Linked DNA regions of Homo sapiens: region 2 is linked to region 1. A link means that fine-mapping ties the variant in region 1 to the expression of a gene that starts in the linked region. Tissue or cell type: whole blood. Region 1 holds a variant in brackets; the other region holds the start of a gene. All regions are shown on one strand. Distances are between the middles of the regions.

Evidence for each region. PIP is the estimated chance that this variant, and not a neighbour inherited with it, causes the effect.
Region 2: it holds the start of DCAF12, and the variant in region 1 is fine-mapped to the expression of DCAF12 in whole blood (TOPMed, PIP above 0.99).

Annotation. Positions count from the first base shown.
Region 1 is chr9:34,147,276-34,155,032 of GRCh38, forward strand. No RefSeq gene overlaps it. Among named protein-coding and RNA genes, the nearest start is that of DCAF12, 24 kb to the left of the region's middle. The variant C/T (reference allele first, on the strand shown) is at 4,190.
Region 2 is chr9:34,123,244-34,129,527 of GRCh38, forward strand. DCAF12 (DDB1 and CUL4 associated factor 12) reads right to left here and starts at 3,455. Exons shown (of 9, transcript NM_015397.4): 1 at 3,111-3,455; 2 at 1,780-2,034. The coding sequence starts at 3,188. RefSeq lists an enhancer at 3,004-3,705 and a silencer at 3,140-3,189.

The sequences.
Region 1 (7,757 bases):
GTGGATCACAAGGTCAGGAGTTCAAGACCAGCCTGGCAAATACGGTGAAACCCTGTCTCTACTAAAAATACAAAAAAATTAGCCACACGTGATGGCGCATGCCTCTAATCCCACCTACTTGGGAAGCTGAGGCAGGAGAATTGCTTGAACTCTGGAGGTGGAGGTTGCAGTGAGCCGAGATCACGCCACTGCACTCCAGCCTGGGCGACAGAGTGAGACTCCATCTCAAAAAAAAAACCAAACAAAAAAACTCTCTCCAGGGCACAGTGAGGCAGTTGACAGCTGGCCAGACAGTGGACAGACACATCTATTCACTCATAGTAGGCAGAAGGGTATTACTTTCTTTGTACAATCGTATTTGAAGGGAATAGAGGGGCTGTGTTGTCCTTGGGAAGCTTTGTATCTTTCCATAAAAGGATATTTTGAGGAAGTCTTAAATGTGGAGATCACAAATGCTTTATGCTCCCTTTTCCATCAAAATTTCTTCCTTGTTTACATTCCCTTACAGGGTGGAATGGATAACTATTGTTTTGGCCTTCCTGGTATCTGCGCACCCTTCTTTTGATAGAGAATCCTGATTATACTCTTAATTTCAGGCTATGTGGTTTGACTGGGGACGACCTGGCCATTACTCTAGGATTGGATATGTAATCTAGTTCTTTCCAAAGCTGGAACTATTAGGAACAAAGCTCCATAATGCTGGGGCTACTATACTAGAAGAATGTAAGGCTGGAGCTGCTGGTATCAGCTTGCCATTCGGTAGGGGAGCCTGTCTAAGAATGAAGTCAACACTGAGAAACATAGACCCAAGAGATAGAAGCCAATCCTGATAACACTGTCTGGGAAGCTCCTTCAGTTTGAGTAGAGCTTCTGTCATTGGAAACCAAATACGTTTTGACTAATCCACAGGGGATATAAAAACTATTTGTCAGCTCTCTAAATGACATTTTGGCAGATGATATGCCTACCCAGAATTTGATTAATGTAATTAAGTTTCATCTTATTCCAGAAAGTATTGATGGTCCCTTCTAGCAAGAAGGTCCCTCCTTTGTGTTTTATTTTGCTGTAAGAAAAAAAGGCAGGCCGGGCGTGGTGGCTCACACCTGTAATCCCAGCACTTTGGGAGGCCGAGGCGGGCAGATCACAAGGTCAGGAGATCAAGACCATCCTGGCTAACATGGTGAAATCCTGTCTCTACCAAAAATAAAAAAAAAATTTATCCAGGTGTGGTGGCGGGCGCCTGTAGTCCCAGCTACTCAGGAGGCTGAGGCAGGAGAATGGCGTGAACCCAGGAGGCGGAGCTTGCATTGAGCTGATATCGCACCACTGCACTCCAGGCTGGGCAACAGAGTGAGACTCCATCTCAAAAAAAAAAAAAAAAAAAAAAAAGAAAAGAAAAAAAGGCATCAATTGGGGTTTAAGTTTGTTGGCATTGACAGGGTTCCACTCTATAGCCCAGGCTAGAGGGCGGTGGCACATCACAGCTCACTGCAGCTTCTACCTCCTGGGCTCAAGGGATCGTCCTGCTTAGCCTCCCCAGTAGCTGTGACTACAGGTGCACACCACCATGCCCAGCTAAAATTTTTTTGTATTTTTTGTAGAAATGGGAGTCTTACTATGTTGCCAAGCTGGTCTTGAACTCCTCTGCTCAAGAAATTCTCCTGCCTGGGCCTCCCAAAGTGCTGAGATTACAGGTGTGAGCCACCGTGTCCATCCACATTTAGGGTCTCTGGCACATACTAACAGGGAGACTCTGAACAAATCTGGGGAATATATCTGAACCTTGGTTTCCTTATCTGTCAAATGGATATATGATCTAGGAAGACCTCTCTTCCTTTTCATGGCGTGTTTTTTTGTTTGTTTGTTTGTTTCCTTTTTTTTTTTTTTTTTTTTTTTGAGACAGAGTCTCACTCTGTCGCTCAGGCTAGAGTGCAGTGGCACAATCTTGGTTCACTGCAACCTCCACCTCCCAGGTTCAAGTGATTCTTGTGCCTCAACCGCCTGAGTAGCTGGAATTTTAGGTGCACACCACCATGCCCAGCTAATTTTTTTGTTTTTTTGTTTTTTTGTTTAGTAGAGATAAGGTTTCACCATGTTGGCCAGGCTGGTCTTGAACTCCTGACCTCAAGTGATCCTCCCACCTCGGCCTCCCAAAGTGCTGGGATTACAGGTGTGAGCCACCGTTCCTGGCCTGGTTCTGTTTTGAAACTTGGAGTGGAGTGGAGAAGATACTGCCATATTGTCCTCTAAAGATACTAATTTATGGCCGGGCATAGTGGCTCATGCCTGTAATCCCAGCATTTTGGGAGGCCAAGGCAGGCAGATCACTTGAGGTAAGGCGTTTGAGACCAGCCTGGATAACATGGTGAAGCCCCGTCCCGTCACTACTAAAAATACAAAAAAATTACCTGGGTGTGGTGATGGCTGTCTGTAATCCCAGCTACTCCAGAGGCTGAGGCAGGAGAATCGCTTGAACCCAGGAGGCGGAGATTGCAAGGAGCCGAGGTTGCGCCACTGTACTTCAGGCTGGGTGACAGATTGAGACAACGTCTCAAAAAAAAAAATTCTAATTTACATTTTTACATTTTCCTTGTAAATGAGAGTGCCCATTTCCCCACATCCTAGCCAATACCAAGTATTGTCAATTTTTTTTCCTTTTCCTTTTCTTTTTCCTTTCCTTTTCCTTCCTTCCTTTTTTAGCAGTCTAGCTGTACAGGGATTAAAATATGCCAGGGATTTAATTTCTCTAATTACTTGGAAGACCATCTGTGCCCTGCTTTGATGCAGGAGTCCCTGCTCTGCCCAGAGAACCATGTGGTGCTCTGCCAAAGCCCCTTTTCTCCAGGCTTTCCTACTCCTCATCCCCTACCAATTGGCTATGGGATCACTTTTGTCAGAGAGTAGGACTGGGAGATGGAGCTCTAGACAGAAATCCTCCCCACACAGCTGTGCCCCTGATACTCTGGGGACGGACAATCACAGAGGACCATTTGACATCAGCCACCAGTGGTCACCAGCCAATTTCCAAGAGCTGCATCTGGGCGGAAACCTACTGTGGCTGAAGGAGTAAAGTGCCCCCCATGCTCACCATGGAGACTTTTGCAGTTTTATCTCCCTTCAGCAGACCTGACTTGAGTTCAAGGCTGAGTCATCAGGGTGAGCATGGGAGTATTTTTCTTATGCTTAAATACAGGTTAATGACATTATAGCAGAATTCTAGTAAAGAGGGCATGTTTATCCAGTTAAAATTTATTCTTGGCTGGGTGCAGTGGATCACGCCTGTAATCCCAGCATTTTGGGAGGCTGAGGTGGGCGGATCACTTGAGGTCAGGAGTTTGAGACCAGCCTGGCCAACATGGTAAAACCTCAACTGTACTAAAAGAAATACAAAAATTAGCCGGGTGTGGTGGCACATGCCTGTAATCACAGCTACATGGGAGGCTGAGGCTGGAGAATCTCTTGAACCCAGGCGTCAGAGGTTGCAGTGAGCCAAGATCATGCCACTGCACTCCAGCCTGGGCAACACAGTGAGACTCAAAAACAACAACAACAACAGCAACAAAAATTATTCTCTATAATGAAAAGCCACAAGCAAAAATTGGTTTTTCAGTTTCCTATTTACTGTCTAGAATGAGACAGACTTATTACAGGCTGTTTGGGAAGAGGAGAAAGTTGATTTAAGTTATTGTATCCAATTATTTTTATTTTTATTTTTTTTTTTTGAGACGGAGTCTCGCTCTGTCGCCCAGGCTGGAGTGCGGTGGCGCGATATCGGCTCACTGTAACCTCCACATCCCGGGTTCACGCCATTCTCCTGCTTCAGCCTCCCAAGTAGCTGGGACTACAGGCGCCCAGCACCACGCTCAGCTAATTTTTGTATTTTTAGTGGAGACAGGGTTTCACTGTGTTAGCCGGGATGGTCTCAATCTCCTGACCTTGTGATCCACCCGCCTCAGCCTCCCAAAGTGTTGGGATTACAGGCGTGACCGTCCTGCATCCTTTTATTGTTAGCCATTGAGCAGCAATTTCCCTTCAATTTCATCTACCCCTCCTCAACTCTCTGAAGAATCTGAGAGACAAATAAAAGAGAGCTAAAGATGAGGGCCAGAGGAGAAAAAGAAAAAGGTTGCCTCAAAAAGTGGCTCGCTTTTCTTATCAATGTCTTTTTCTTGTCTATCATTATCGATTC[C/T]ACCCAGCAATTTCTCTGCCTGATCTGCAGCCCACCTCCTTATCTGCAGACATCCAGAGTGCCCCTTCTTTGCCGGAGTAAGTCATGTACCTCAGTTGAGAGCTCCCGTTGGGACATAAAGTCCATGAATTCAGTGAGGCCTTGCTCTTCTCTGTGATCAGCACAGAACTCAGCTCTTGGCCTTGCCAGTAGCAGCAGCAGTCAGAGGTAAAGGGGCCTTGGGGGAGAAGTGATTCTGACTCCTTTATTATGTAGGTGAGGAGACTGAGACTACCCCTTCTCTCATCAAGAAGGGAAGGCATCTTTGGGCCTCAGTGGCAAAAAGGTCAGGAGAGTGGGTAGTGGGGTGCTGTTGTTTGGAGCACCCAGTTTTGGAGTCAGACCGACTTGGGTTGAAAGCCAGTGATCCTGAGTAATAACTTCCACTCTCTAAACGTGTTTCCTTCGTTGCAAATTGGGGTTAATAATGTTGTGTTCCTTACAGAACTATTAAGAGAATTCAATGCACAGAGACATATAAAATACTACGCTTGGAACAAAAGAAGTATTTTAAAAGTCGTTAATATTATGCATTTCATTTTTTTTCCTTTTTTTCCCCTTCTAATCAATGTCAGAAAAATTAAGGAAATAGGAAGTCACTTCCAAGGGAGCTCTGGCTGCTCTGCAAACCTGTTAGTTAGCTATGAGATCCAAGCTACTCAGGAGACCCAGAGCAAGTTGTTACTTCTTTCTACTGATTGGGAAACTGAAGAATAGAAGAAATGTAATTGTCTGCCTTGCCTAATGGCATGGTGTAAAATAATAAGAAATATGCAAATTGGTCTTTGACCATGGTTCCTGTCTGACACAGAGCTTCTAAGAACTGTATAATTTTCTGAGAGATTGGAGCTTCTGATACAGAGCTCCTAAGTCTCTTGTAATTTCAGTTGATAGAAGTACATTTTGTGCTGAAGCAACTCTGTGAGCTCCTGGATGGGGGCTAACCACCAGAAAGACCAAGTCATAATTTGAAGCTTGGAACTTTTACCCTTACCTCCCATTTTCTGGAGAGGAGAGAGGGCTGGAAATGGCATTAATAATCAGTCATGGCCAGGCACAGTGGCTCACGCCTGTAATCCCAACACTTTGGGAGGCCAAGGTGGGCAGATCACTTGAGGTCAGGAGTTCTAGACTAGCCTGGACAACATATCGCTACTAAACCCTGTCTCTACTAAAAATAGCAAAAAACAGAAAAATAAAATTAGCTGGGTGTGGTGGTGTGAGTCTGTAGTCCCAGTTACTCAGGAGGGTGAGGCAGGAGAATCACTTGAACCCGAGAGGTGGAGGTTGCAGTGAGCCAAGATTGCACCACTGCACTCCAGCTTGGGCAACAGAGCGAGACTCCGTCTCAAAAAAAAAAAAAAAAATTAGCCATGCGTGGTGGCAGGTGTCTGTAATCCCAGTTACTCAGGAGGCTGAGGCAGGAGAATCACTTGAACCCGGGAGGCGGAGGTTGCAGTGAGCCGAGATCGCGCCATTGCACTCCAGCTTGTGCTACAAGAGCAAGACTCCATCTCAAAAGAAAAAAAATCCCGGCCGGGTGTGGTGGCTCACTCCTGTAATCCCTGCACTGTGGGAGGCCGAGGCAGGCGGATCATGAGGTTAGGAGATTGAGACCATCCTGGCCAACATAGTGAATCCCATCCCTACTAAAAATACAAAAATTAGCTGAGCATGGTGTTGCATGCCTGCAGTCCCAGCTACTTGGGAGGCTGAGGCAGGAGAATTGCTTGAACCCGGGAGGCGGAGGTTGCAGTGAGCCGAGATCATGCCACTGCACTGCAGCCTGGGCGACAGAGCAAGACTACGTCTCAAAACAACAACAACAACAACAACAACAAAACCAAAGGTACAGTTTTTGGGTTGGGGAACACATCCATGTGCTGGGAGGATGGTACATACCAACTCCACAGGGACAGAAACACCCGTGCTCAGGACCTTTCAAGACCTTGTCCTATGTATCTCTTCATGTGTCTGTCCATCTGTACCCTTTGTAATATCCTTTGTAATAAACCGATAGATGTAATAAAATGTTTCCCTGAGTTCTGTGAGCCTCCCTAGCAAGTTAAGTAGGAGGGAGTCATGGGAACTCCCAATTTATAGCCAGAAGTTCTGGAGGCCCAAACTTGCAACTGGCATCTGAGGAGCAGGGCAGTCTGGTGGGACTGAGCCCTTAAGGTGTGGGATCTAATTCTAACTTCATGTAGATAGTGTCAGAATTGAACTGAATTATATGACACCCAGTTGGTGTCCACTGGAGAACTGCCTGGTGTACAGGAGAAAAAAACCCCACACATCTTGTTACAGAAGTGTTCTATGTTAAGAGTATAGTAGGAGAAAACAGTTCGTTTAGTTTATTTTTCCTACTACACACATGGTGTAACAGAAAAAGCATGGGTTTTGAAAGTAGGATTTTGAACTGAGTTCAAATGCTGGCTATGCTGCCAAGTTGCTTTGTGATCTTGGATAAGTTACAGAACCTCTCTGAGCCTTTCTCCGAGATGTTAATACCTACTACATAGGGTTATTATGAAGAGTAAATGAAATGATGTATGTGTATGCCAAACACATGTGAAGTTGTGAAATCTATTTTTTTTTTTTTTTTTGCCTATTCTAGAATCTAATTTTTCCTTTTTCTGGTAGCATAATTTGATTTTTTCTTTAGGGAAGTGCCTTTCCTCTTCTGCACACTCTAATGCTAAAACTGTCAGTCAAGATTCCCTACTTCTCCAGCCAAGTGGTCATATTACCCAAGTTAGGCTAGCCAGACCCTTGTTGCCTGTAATTCGAATCCTTTTGGGGGTGAAATGGAGATGGAAAATGGCTGGAGCTGATTCATCCCAGGTGTCATTCTGAAAAGACTATCTAATAGTTTTTGCCATCTAGATCTCTGTAGCTACCTGGTTCTTGTCTTTTACTTTTTAAAATTAATTTATTTTAGATACAGGGTTTCACTATGTTACCCAGCCTAGAGTGTAGTGGCTTTTCACAGGTATGATTATGGAACACTGCAGCCTTGAATTCCTTGTCTCAAGCAGTCCTTCCACCTCAGCCTCCCAAGTAGCTGAAACTACTGACTTGTGCCGCTGCACACAGCTTAAACCAATAATTTCATTTACTTTATTTTTTATTCTTTAAAAATTTTTTAACCAATAATTCTAAAAAATTAAATTTAACATTGTAATGATTTTAGAAAAGCGGTAATTGCTTTAGAAACAAGTCAACATTTCTTTTTAATTTTAGTCAGTTCAAGTCATGTTAGTCTATGGATTTTAGTCAATGATTTTTTTCCCTTTCAAGTTTTTTATGCTGAAGTGTTTTAAAATAACTGTAGACATTCTTAACTCTCGTAAATTACATAGTCAAAAAGATTTAATTCCTAATTTCTACTCAAATTTCTCCAACTGTACCAAAAATTACTTATACATGCATTCTGTCCAAACTAGGATCCAACCACAGATGACACTTCAAATCTTAGAATCCAGGTGCTATGTTCCTTAAGCCTCTTTTAATGTAAAAGAGGTTTTTT
Region 2 (6,284 bases), 25 kb before region 1:
CACATTATCCAAAGACAATTCCAATTTTTAAATAATTTTCCTCTCTTCAAATTGTGGGAAAAGGTTATGGAAATCATTTTTACCGCTACTAGTACTTTTAAATAAGTAAGATATTGCTCACTCAGAATATTTCCCAGATGCATGCAGACACCTTAGCACCAGATATTATCACTCCCATTTTGCAGATGCAAAAACAAAAGCACAAATAAGGGAATCATTTGCCCAATGTCACAAAGTTCAGAGAAGAGCACTATTCCTAGTTCCCTGCTTTGGTTCTGGAAGCTAAGCAAAAACAAACAAATACTAACTATAAAATGAAAACAGCTCCCCTTGCCCCAAACACTAGGTTATGAGGATTAGGAAGACAGAAAGAGGTAGGAATTAAGAGTAGGTTAAATTATTACTTATTATGCTCGCCTTCAAAATAGTGTCAATAAATTCAACAAGCAAGAGGCTATGATGATTAATTCAGTTTACAATTCAGTAATATTTGCTAGGCTAAACACTATGATGCACGTGCGGGGAGTGGAATGAACTCTTCCAAGCAGGAGACTCTTTTTCTACTCCAAGTGACAAGGATGACAGTTCTTAACCACGAGTGGGCAGCTGGAGAGACCAAGAAAAGGAAGTTCTGTGGAGGCCCGTTGCCACCACTTAGTTTTGAAAGGCTTCTGGGTAAGACAAGCGACTCCTCAACAGAAGAGGAAACGAAAGGTTGGCCCCAACCACCATGGTATTATTTCCTTCCTCAAAACTGTTTAAATTTTTGCCTATGTCCTTTATAAACAGACCAACCACCATGGTATTATTTCCTTCCTTAAAACTGTTTAAATTTTTGCCTATGTCCTTTATAAACAGACACTTCTCCTAGTACTTAAGACTTTCTTGATCTAGAGCAATCTTCTCTCTTTTAATGATCCAAAATGTGTTTCATTCCAGGGTCAATTTACTCACACATTATGACATTACTTGTCCATTCACACAGGGGAGGTGAAAACCGAGGGAGGGCTGGGCGTAATCATTTCCCACCCCTAGGCCCTAGGCCCTGCCTCTTTTCATTTGCCAGTCTTGTGACATCATGCTATTCGTGGACTCTATTCCAAACGTTTCTGCTCTTTGACTTATTTTATCCTGGCCTATAATTGGGTTGGTTACAAAGCTTACTGAGAAATTTTTCACTTCATTCATTTATAACTGTCTTTCTATTCACTCTTAAAAAGGCTACTTTCCAAAGAGCTAATGCTTATACCCTGAAATATACTACCAGACACACATTCCCTGCCTTCCTTATAGGAAACAGTTCATGTATTTCTCATATTTCAGTTTATACATTTTTAGATTCTGTTCACTAAAAAACAGCCAAGTGTGCTATTTTAAATACTTCGACATACGTTCTTAGGCTGTTTTCACTATTATGTATCCTGAATGATGCTCTAAGCATCATTATTTCTTAAATCTTTCCTTTGAGGCCTATGACTTAAAAACCAGCATAAAAATATGAGGCAAAAACAAACAAACAAACAAACAACCCTCTAGAAGCAGCACATCCAGAGAGGGCCTGAAGAAATACACTCCTTTGAGGACTTATCAGAAAAGAAATGTATGAGTGAAAAAAGGAACACGAAAAGAGGAAGAAGTCACCAACGGGAAAGAATGGAAAGGAGAGTAAGGCAAGTCCCTCCTAAAAGAAACAGACGGGAAAACTAGCAGAGGTTCTAGAGCAAGTGGAGCAATATATCCACGACCTAGGAGAGAGGTCACATCCCCCCAGGCACTTACCGTGTTGCATTTTGTGCCACACACCACTTGCCTATGATTCAACCACTGAGATGCAAACACTTTATTAAGGGTCCCAAGGTGAAACTCTCTCTCCTTCAGGAGACTGGGAAGTTGCTGTGCTGCATAACCATGCAACACTCGAGAGTAGCTGGTTTCATTCTGTAGCCTGACTTCCCGGTTCTTCAAGTAGTATACTAAGGATCTCTTCACAGGAGGAAGTCTTTTCCTTTTGTGAAGCGAGTGATCCCAGCCAAACTGTGGAAACAACATTAGAAATCAGGGCTTTGGCTACTCTTCTTCAGAACAGATCCTACTGTATTACAGAAATCACCAACTCATAACTCATACTGCAGAATTTACAAACAACACAAATACAAACACAAGAGAACAAGAATCTCAATCCAGAAAGTCGTTTAACTCTTCCAACATTAAAAAGATGTTGCTCACAGTCAAACTTACCAATGTGAATTACAAGGGCTGAAAGTCAAGGGAATGAATGCAGAATAGAACAGACTAAAAGGTTTACTAGACATTTTAGGAGTGAAAGATTGAAGGAAATGAGAGGTAGAGTGATTCCCATACCGACATGGGCTGCATCTCTACCCAGCCCCCTTCTCCCTCTCAGTCTGTACTCCCACTGGAGCACGGAAGATACAGTCCAAGGAGCCAGACCTGGCTCCCAGGTCTTCCAGGGATGCATCATCAATGACCGTTCCTCTGTCATCATGCCCGCGCTCCAGGCAGTTGCAGAATTCGAAAAATCAACCGCCAACGGGGTAGTAGGCCCCCGGGAAATCAGAGGCCATATCTATGTCCAAGAAGGCCTTCCCCTCCAAAGGGGGCGGCATAGAGATGATACCTGGGAACTGTTGTTTCTTTTGGGGTCCAAACGCCGAAAGGCCCAGCTCAGGGTTGGGTATACATATAGGGAGACTACTTCCTTCTTCCAGGAGGGACGCAATCATCCCAGCTTCCTAGGGCCCATGGAAGGTAGAGTTCACTCTACCAGAGTTTGTTTCCGATTCCCTTAACTTCGGTTTCCCCTTCCTCCAAAGCCAAGATTCTGGTTTCTTTTCAAGCCCTATCCACGAATGCAGGCCTCCCGCGGATTATGTCCCATTCCTGAGTTCCCCTTTGGCTCCTCACCGCCCTGGCCTATCTGCCCTCCAGTTAACGAGGGTCCAGTCCTGACCCTATAGGCCCTGAACCCATTCCTGTTTTGCCTCTGACTGCAGACCCTGGACCCCGATTCCCGTCGCAGGATCTGCGGACCCTAAGCCCATCTTGGTTCCTCAGCCTCACCACCCAGGTGCCGGCCTCTCAACCCTCACCTGCGGGCCCTGAGCGTCGCTCCCAGCTCCCGGCGAGGCGGGCGCTTTCCGCTTCCTGCTAACTACTTTCCGGGCCATAGTGGGCAGCGCCGCCGCGGCCCCGCAGCCACATGGGGCGGGGGAAGCGAAGGATAGCAGGACGGCGGGTCATATACTGGGCCCCGGGGCCGCGCACCTTAGTGCGCCCGGCCCGGAAAATGGCCCGGACCCGGAGCGGCAGCAGAAAAAAGATAGGCGGAAAGAAAGGAAAGAGAGAGGAAGGACTTGAGCCGGGAAAGGGAAGGGGAAGCGAGAATGAGCGGCTTTCCGACGGCAGAGCCTGCAAGGACGGCGAGCGGCTAGAACCAAAACACCCCCTCCCCCTTGCTCGCGCGCCGTCACCCTTGCGCAGCCGCACTTCGGATAGCGTCGCCACGGAAACACCGCCGGAACGAGATGGGCGGGATCTAGGGGTTGGAAGATAGTTCTCTGGTGTTTCCCGGCCGCCGCCAGGCCATTTTCAACGGTTGTTTGGCTACTGCTGGATGGAAGTGGACGAGCTGGGGCCAAGGGAATCTGGCTTCTGGCCGCCGACCTCCGACCCCAGCCCGCCTATCCGCAGGCACCCGGAAGTGAGGACCACCAGTGCTGCTGGGGGAAGGAATCCTCCCTAGTGCAGGCCTTAACCCGGTTACCTCCCATCTGGCACCAAACGTTTCCCTGAATCTGTCACAAACCGTGCCCTGGCTCCAAGGGCTGGACAGGGGGGTGGGGGGGTGGGGGGCAGGAACCGCTCCCACCCTCGAGGTGAAGTCCAGTCAGGAAGTCAGGGCAGTGTGGCCAGACTTTCCCACCACTGAGAACCTGCCCAGCACAACCAACCCAGGCCGCCCTACGAGTCTCTGGCTACCCTCTTCCCACCGCTGGGTAGCCCTGAGGCTCCATTCTCCGCTCTGTCTCCTCCTGATCCTTTCTCCTGTCCGAAATGCTTCAGCCCCTCAGTCAGTTTCAGCTCCTCAGTCACCTTCCCCTTACGGTGCAACTTCACCATTCCCTTTAGATTTCCATGACCTGCCATCTAAACCACATGGTCTTTTGTGCTTTATGAAGTAGTCATCACGCTGTAAACTTATCTGTAGCTGCCTGCCTCACTCTTGGATTCAGGTTGCGTCTCCATTAGGGCAGGTCGGGAATTCTGAACTACAGGAAAGAGAGTGGTCATTTTTGGCTTGCCAGTCCAGTTAGAGCTGGCATTGGCCTCCAAACAAGGGGGCTTCATCAGGATCACCCTTGCCAACATTTTTGGAAGATCCTGAAGGAATATGACTGCCAGCCTTCGCTTTCCTCAAGCAAACAAACCCTCTGAGGAAGCAGGATGCTCTTGCTTGGGGCTGATTGGCCTCAGGCTGTGGTGCCCAGTTACCTGCTGGTCACTTCAGGCTTCAGGCCTCAGGCCTCATACCTCCAAGGAGCTCTGTTGGACCATCTCAAGTTCTGTCAACAAGGAGATTTGGATTTGTTTTCCAAGCCGAATCAAAGACCAGATTGAAGCAGGGTCTCCTGCCATCCCAAGTCGGCACTACCACTAACCCCTAATGTCTTGCGAAAGGCAGCTCCATCTTATTTGGTCAGGCCTGTCCCTTTAGAGATATGCACATAGTGAGTGGGTCAGGAGTGGGTCAGCTTTCTTTTTTGAGTCTGTTCTAATTCTGTCTTGCCCCGCAATGCTCTGGATGACCCAAGAGCCCCTGGGCAAGAGTCTGGAATCCTTTGAGAATCTCTAGGCTCAGATTGGGCTGTCAGTGCCAAGAGGGGCACACTGGGCACTGCTGCAGTCTCTTTCTCAAAGTTCCTTTACTTCATCTTCACAACCTAGGAACCATCCCCAAATGTACCTTATAGCAGAGCTCGCGATTTCTTTTCTTTTTTTTTTTTTGAGATGGAGTCTCACTCTGTAGCCTAGGCTGGAGTGCAGTGGCACGATCTCGGCTCACTGCAACCTCTGCCTCCTGGGTTCAAGTGATTCTCCTACCTCAGCCTCCTGAGTAGCTCAGATTACAGGTGCTCGCCACGTTGCCCAGCTAATTTTTTTTTTTCTTTTTTGAGACGGAGTCTCGCTCTGTCGCCCAGGATGGAGTGCAGTGGTGCGATCTCGGCTCACTGCAGGCTCCGCCTCCTGGGTTCACGCCATTCTCCTGGCTCAGCTTCCCGAATAGCTGAGACTACAGGCGCCCGCCACCACGCCTGGCTAATTTTTTGTATTTTTAGTAGAGACGGGGTTTCACCATGTTAGCCAGGATGGTTGCCCACTAATTTTTGTATTTTTAGTAGAGACGGGGTTTCACCATGTTAGCCAGGATGGTTGCCCACTAATTTTTGTATTTTCAGTAGAGATGGGGTTTCGCCATGTTGGCCAGGCTGGTCTCAAAATCCTGACCTCAGGTGATCCGCCCACTTCGGCCTCCCAAAGTGCTAGGATTACAGGCATGAGCCACCACGGCTGGCCAAGAGCTCACCATTTCTATTCAAATAACAGAATGAAAGTCCATTTTGGAAATTTAATTGACAATTGCCTTTAAAAGACTGCAGGCCAGGTGCGGTGGCTCACGCCTGTAATCCCAGCACACTGGGAGGCCGAGTTGGGCCAATCACCTGAGGTCAGGAGTTCGAGACCAGCCTCCTGAGTAGCTGGGTTGCAGTGAGCTGAGATCATGCCACTGGACTCCAGCCAGGGTGACAGAGCAAGACCCTGTGTAAAAAATAAAATAATAAAATAATAATGATAACAATAATAAAGTAGTAGAGTGGCTGGGGGAAAAAGTACTCAGGGCATGTAACTACTCCAAGAATGGCATTCTTAGTGAGCCTCACTGCTGAAACTGCGTGCTATAATCTGAAAGCAGTTTTATCTAATAGCTGTTAAAACAACCTACTGTGACTCTCAGAAATAGTTTTACTTATTGCCTTCACTTACCAATCAAAACTTGCCAGCTCTCCAAAACCTTACTAGTGCCAGTGAACTTTCTTGAAGAGCAATACATAACACTTCCTTTTTACAAAACTTCCAACCTTCTCTTTGTTCTGCAGACATGGCAAAGACCACCCAGTCTGCGTGTGCCCTGAATTACAATTCCTGCTTCACAAAACATTTTAATTTTAGAGATTCATCTATATATTTTATTTCACCTTGACAAA